Linked DNA regions of Homo sapiens. The protein of the gene in region 2 interacts with the protein of the main gene of each other region in a biochemical or structural test. Each region holds a gene or a part of one and is shown on either strand. Other genes may lie near its edges.

Evidence for each region. The genes of interacting proteins can lie anywhere in the genome.
Region 1: the proteins of MRPS6 (region 2) and TLK1 form a complex in vitro, tested with the Homo sapiens proteins (one large-scale study listed by BioGRID).

The regions. Positions count from the first base shown.
Region 1 is NC_000002.12:170,990,243-170,993,688, reverse strand, and holds the end of TLK1 (serine/threonine-protein kinase tousled-like 1), read left to right. Parts: 3' UTR 1-2,866; downstream 2,867-3,446. UniProt on the Homo sapiens protein: Rapidly and transiently inhibited by phosphorylation following the generation of DNA double-stranded breaks during S-phase. This is cell cycle checkpoint and ATM-pathway dependent and appears to regulate processes involved in chromatin assembly.
Region 2 is NC_000021.9:34,121,918-34,125,577, forward strand, and holds part of MRPS6 (small ribosomal subunit protein bS6m), read left to right. Parts: intron 1-3,423; coding exon 3,424-3,563; intron 3,564-3,660.

The DNA.
Region 1 (3,446 bases), on a different chromosome or scaffold from region 2:
TTTTTTTTTTTTTTTTTTTTACACAAGACGTGGTTAAGAACTGTTTGTGAACTGAAGTTCCTCATAGTGTCATTTGTATGAGAGAGGATCATGGACAATGAATAAATGCACACTTCTGACTATAATTTTGAGCAGTGAAGGAAGGATGACTGCCTGTTACACAGAAACAGGAATACCATGTTAAGATAGAGGAAAAAAATTTTGTTTATTTGGGGGAACACTGTAAATAACGTTTATAATACTTAAATACATTTGGTTGTTACTAGAGAGTTCTAATATGAAGGGTAGTTTTTCATTATTTAAAAACACATGGAAAAATATGAGACATATTTCTAACATACGAACTATAGTGCCTGGATACATTCTTCAGCATTTGGCAGTTAATCTGCTGAAACCAAAGTAAGAACTGAATGACAGTGACAGTTGTGTTTTATAGTAATAGAATGTGAGAGTTAGAATCTTTGGACAAAGTTAGGCTTTGTCATTTGCCTATTCAGACTTTTACCAAGTTGTACCTCGAGATCACATGTCCGTTTTCTTTCACTGGTTATATTAAAGGGAGAGCTATTATTTCTAAATACTTTACACCTTTGACAAAATGAGCTGCTTGTGTTGAAATCAGTTGAATTCACTAAATTATAATATTGCCAGTGTTTTCAACACGTTAGAATTGATAACAGGTATTTTTCTTTTGTTACCAGGCCTTGTTCATCAAAACAGGTGACAGTGAGTAACCAAATGCAGACCAGTTCTATGCAGGATAATGATAAATTCCCTTCTAGCTCTATTGTAAATTGTTGTACAGATGTCATATTTCAATTACTAAGTTTCAGCAGCTTATTCTTGTACAAATGTTTAAAATATGGCTTTTCTAATTGGATATTGTATTTTTTTTAAGTCTTCTTGAAGGCACTCTAATTGCTGCTAAATGATGTTGCTTCTTTGCTAAAAAATTAAATGACCTAGAAGGTGCAAGTTGACTGTACATCATAGATATTAAAAAGCAGACAGTCATTAACAATCAAGATGTAAAAGTGATCCATGTTGGACATAATTGAGTTTTTAAATCAGTTTATTGGGTTCTAGGGCTGTAGAACACATAGATACTAGATTTTTAATTTGTTCATGGTTATTCTACATTTCTAGAAAGTTCTTATCAGCAAGATGGTCCCATAAGCAAATTTCTTGTGGTTTGTACAGATTTGTTAAAATGTGAACGTTTTCTAACTGCCTCGTAGGGTAGAAACCAATATTTTTCAGGATGCTGTATTTCACTCCTGTAAGGACTTTTTCTTTATTGTCACATTCATAATGCTGATACTTACATGTAAGTTGTTCATGTTGCAGAAAAAGGTTATACGTACCACGGATTCTCTTTAATATTGTACAGTTAAACTGTATTTCTGATGTTGCAAGCCATTTTGTTTTTTCATTGTACATAGACACATTGTCTCTTTAAAATGCTGCTGAAATTGTAGAGAGTATAGCCAAAACAGTAATAAACAATGACAGTTAAAATGTAAAGACTATGAAAATTACATTGGAAGGGAGCTTTCAAGATGGTAGGATATTGACTAACTGAGCTCCTTCACTTAAAAATCAGCTGAATAAATTCCTTAAGTATACTTCAAGACAAGTGTAAATTGTTTCAAGCTGTTAAAGTTAAACCTAATAACCATTATCAAGGCAACTCCTGGGTAAGTAACACTTAGAACCATCAAGAGTGGTTTAAGGGGCTGGCTATACCCATTCCTCTGTAGAGCACAGAGAAATCCTATTAAAAAAAAAATACTACATGGTAATGAAATCTTAGCATTGATTGAGTGCTTTACGTGCTGCCTGCAAGTTTTCAGTTTTGTTGTTAGAGTTTTCGTCTTTATGAATGATAAAGTCCTATGTTCATAAAGTAACATTTAAATTCCTGAACTAAAAGGAAATGCCTGTTGTGCTTAAAATTTTGGGGAGATACGAAGTGAATGTGTAAATCTAACTTTGAGGTTCAGTAAGTTAAGTAGTATAGACCTAGAGATCACTGCTTTACCATTTTACTTTCAAATGAATGAGAGCGACTGCTAGTGGCAGAACGCAGAAAAGGGGAAAAACAAGCCATGAAATGAAGTTGCTTTCCTGACCTGGGTTTAGGTCATCATTTTAAAATCAAAGATGTGTAGGAGATGAATCAACTTATAGACCCATATTTTCCTTCTAAAAGTTTCCCAAAGAAATGTTATAGATTTTGAATAACATGCCAGTGACCCAGCAGGTCCAAGATGGCTAACCAAGATGGCTAATTTAGCCACATTGAATAACTTACTTTTACCCTCACATGGAAAGTTGGTATCTATTGCTAAATGATTTCAAGGTCACTCTGACAGTCTTTGACACTGTTTTTTTTAGGGTTTTATTGTTTTCTGGTCTCCTGGTGTCTGTCCTCAGAATTAAAGCATGTCCTGCATCCCTAAGATGATAGCCAAGGCCTCTCTTTTATTAAGAGTCAGCACTGATGTAGGGTAAAATCAACAGTTTTTGCATATGATTTTAAAATCTTTCTTTGATTTGAATTTGCTTTAGTGTGTGCATGTTGAGAGGAAGTAAGTGTAGAAACCACCCTAATTTGTAAGTTGGGAGTTGGAGATACTTGGTGGTTTTTCAAAAATAAAGACTCAATCTTTTTTTTTTTTTTAAACACTCACTACCATCTCCTTCTAAAACAACTCTGTCAGTTTAAATGGCATATAAAATGTGAACAAACACCTCATTACATGAAGTCAAAATGGTGAAGAGCTTCAGTGAAACATTTAAAGAGTATATTGTGTGTTGTTTTGCTGTTCATCATTACTTATTAAATGCAGTAATGTTGATTGCCCTCATGCTATTAGCTGTGTTTTAGTTGTATAGTACAGTTCACCTAGATTAATTTACTCTTAAAATTTAATTACATTGCTGTTTGATTTTTGTGTGAATGTTATAACCTTACTTACACATTTAAAAGCCCATTGACAGGTCTTTCTTTAATTCTGCCTTAAGTTTTGACCTGTTAACTGATGATTTTTCATCTACATATACTAAATTTCAATGTTCTGAAGATTTAATCTAATTCAAAAAGTGCTTTTAGGCTGGCAGTGATGGCTCATACCTGTAATCCCAGCTCTTTGGGAGGCCAAGGCAGGTAAATCATTTGAGGTCAGGAGTTGGAGACCACCAGCCTGACCAACATGGTGAAACCCCATCTCTACTAAAAGTACAAAAAAATTAGCTGGGCATGGTGGTGCATACCTGTAATCTCAGCTACTCAGGAGGCTGAGGCAGGATAGTCACTTGAACCCCAGAGGCGCAGGTTGCAGTGAGCTGAGATCATACCTCTGCACTCCAGCCTGGGCGACAGGGTGAGACTCCATCTCAAAAATAAATAAATAAGTGCTTTTAGCAGCTAGTTTTAGAATTAA
Region 2 (3,660 bases):
GAGCCCTGCAGTGAGTTGAACAGCTCAACTGATGGTATTCGTTAGATGGTACCCGATGTGTCTACCTGATGACACATCCAGTGAGGAATACACCCTCTATACGTCAGTCAGTGGCCCAGGCTCATGGTTTTATTTGTGGTGCATTTTAGGGTACATGGATTAAGGACCTGCCAGCTTCCCTCAGCCCATCACAATATAGAACCAGGGGTTGGCCAGATAGTAAATAGTTTAGGCTCTGGGGCCATGTGGTCTCTTGTAATTACAGATCTACCTTTAGCACAGAAGTAGCCATAGACACTATGCAGATGTGTGAGTTGGCTGTGTTCCAGTTCAACTTTATTTGCAAATACAGGTAGCAAGCCAGATTTGGCCCAAGAGCCCTGGTTTGCCAACCCTGCTTTATGGTGAGGTAAGGTCTATGGGGCGTTATTTTTGCTCCTCCTTCCACCTTTCGTTTTATACTTCTGGGTGTTTTGAAATTAAAGTGAGATGAATGTGGCCATTCCAGTAGTCTACAGTTTGACCTTGACATACTGAAGTCAAACAATTTTTTTTTTTATATTTTCCTAAGTTACATTCTTGTTAGGTAGCCTTTCCCCTTTTTGAGACAGATGTAAGAAGAAAATGTTTTTTACTTTATAAGCTCTTACTTCAGAAGAGGGTAATGAGTTTTATACTGTAAACACTTCAGTTGGAACTTAAAAGATATTGAGATATATTCCTTTTTAATCAGGCAAAACTGGAATTGAAATTTATTTGGGTAGCTAATCAGAAAACTAATCAATCAAATGTTTTTTTCCTTTTTTTTTTTGAGTGCAAAGCTGAGACCCGACTCTTTATTTGGATGGGCTGTTCCTTTACCTTATCATACGTTAATTGATGTAATGCCAGGTCAAGAAACAGCATTTTCAGTTAAATGAAATACTGTGCTGCTGTTAATAATGAGTCCTCTGCAGATGTATGGCGATGTCTTTGTGAACTATAATGAAATGTGAGAAGAATGTAGTCTTCATATGATTAGAACTGTCTAGGAATGTGTTTGATACAATCATAAGGATAAATTGCCTTAGACTTTTTACCTACTGTTAATGGGAAGAGATTTTGGCCTGAATTTTTATTGTCTTCAGGAAATTTCTGTTTTATCTTAAGGTTGGTTAAATATATAAACAACGATTCAGTAGGAATTTTTAAAATCCCTAATGGACTTCAATATGAAAAGAAAGTAAAGAATGTTTTTTTCTAAGCCTTAAGCCAATACTTAGCACATTTCATACCATTTTAGCAGCACTTGTCAGAAAGAAAATTTTAAAAATATAGTGGATTTTGTTTGGTTGCCAGAATGCACACTTAAACTTGTTCTGCAATTTTCTCTTCATTTGATCCCCAAATGAACCTCTGGAAGGTAGCCTATTCTTAAGTTTCCTCCTGCACTTTAAAATCACCCTGCTTGCACCTCTTCACGTAGGTCTTTGAGGAGATGTGCACCTTGTCTTTGCCAAGGTGTGCCTCTGGCTTCCTCCCCGATGGTTTCCACAGCTTTCCTTCTCCTTGCAGCAGGCGTTTCCACTTAATAGCTGCCCTGTCAGCATCTCTCTAGAGATCCCATCCCAAATCTGTAAACCTTCTTGGCTTTTTTTTTTTATGAAGATAAAATATGTAACAATAAGACACTAGACCATATAGTAGTTATCCAGTAAATCATAGCTGTCATCGTTGTTGCTATTTTAGAAATCCTACATTTTATCGTCTTGCATGGTCCGCTCCTTTTTGACTACCAACTTGCCCATGTGTTTTCTCCTAAAACACGTTGCTCAAGTTGCTTGTCCCTGGAGCCCTGGCATTTTCTCCTCCTCACCATTGTTCTCATACCTCTACCATGGGAACCTTGGCAGCCTGCTTTCTGGCCCCATCTTGCCAAATGCCCATGTAGCTACCACACCGCGGCTTTTTCTTGATCTCTGTCCTCTACCCCATTGTCATTCTGGACAAGGCAGTCTCCCGATTTTCCTTGTCCTATTTGATGATACGTTTTATATTTGCTTCTCTGACTTTGAGTCCTCTTGTTAGCCCCTAAATGTTTGTACTCCCCAAGGTTCTGCTGGTGATCTCCTTTCCTCTCCCCCTCCACCCTTTCTATTGATCTCACCTCCTTCTCAGGCTTCAGAGAGCCGTCTGTGCAGGTGACTATGAAATGTGTATTTCTCATCCACCTGCTTTGAGCTTAAGATTTACATCTGGAGAGGTCAACCTAGGGGAGCCATGGCATCTGAGACTCAGCGTGTCTTAAACCAGATTCATCTCTTACTGTCCTCACCAGCTTCTCCAGCTCTCCTTTTAGCTGTAGTGACAGTTGCACTCTCTCAGCCACCAGATTGTGGTGCCCTTCTTCGCCACATCTTGCCTTCATTCTCCACATTGCATTCGTTGCAGTTTTCAGGCTTATCCTTATAAAGTATCTTTTCTTCCAAAAATTGCTTGTGTATACATATGCATAGAGAGATATCTGGAAAGAAATTCACCAGAAAGTTTAATTCACCATCCAGTCTATCTCTGGGTAATGGGATTCTATATTGTTCAAGCTTTTTTTTTTTTTTTTTTAAATAACAGGCCTTGATTACTCATGGACTTGTGCCCAGTGTATACCCGTCTATCTCCTCAGCACTCCCTTGCCCTGAACCCCATCACTGGGGCTCAGTTGCTGGTTCATTCATTCTTTGTACCTCCGGTCATCATTTTCCGGGTGCCTTTCAAGTAAACTTTCCTTAGTGAAACCCTTCTTCCAGCTGAATGTTTCTTCCTTTCGTGAGCCCTCTGGTCTCTATGCTATTTCCTGTATTCTGCCCTCTGCTCTCCATACATGTGTATTTTGTGTTCTGTCCTTTATTAGATTGTAAGCTCCATGAGGGCAGAGTTTGGGTCTGATTACCCATCCTTTCCCCCTTTTGGTTACAGTCTCCCAGTTTTTCTTTGGGAGACAACACCTTTTCCCCCTGGCTACAGTTTTGGTGGGATGGGCAGTTCAGGTGTCCTGCCAACGAGATACTCTTCTCCTGGAATTTGAATTTTGAGTCATGGGATACAAGGACTGACAGTGATTGGCACTGATTCAGCCTGGCCGAGGTGCTCTGAAGAAGCCACTCATTAGTTCCTGCCTCCCAGATCCCTGGAGCTGCCCTGGTCCCTGAACTCTCCGAAGCCTGGTTCTTCAGATATTCCTCGTATCTGTGAGCTATCTCATATCCTTACAATAAATTCTCTCTCTCTTTTATTTTAAGTTAACCAAAACCAGCTTCTGTTGCTTTTACCCAGCGATTCCTACCAGTAGAGCTGTTATGATTGGAACTGAGCAGACTTAATCATTCTAGCTCTTATATTAATTCTGATGCTTTTTTTTCTTTTCTTTAAAAACACAAACAAAAACAGCCAGAGACTGCTGCTACTTTGAAACGTACGATAGAGGCCCTGATGGACAGAGGAGCAATAGTGAGGGACTTGGAAAACCTGGGTGAACGAGCGCTTCCTTATAGGATCTCTGCCCACAGTCAGCAGCACAACAGAGGCGGGTAAGTTTCTTCATGAAGTCTTGAAAGACGTTTTTGATAGGCTCAGTAAAGAGTACTGTTCAATTACTATTAGAAGTTCTTAAAATTTCACATTGAG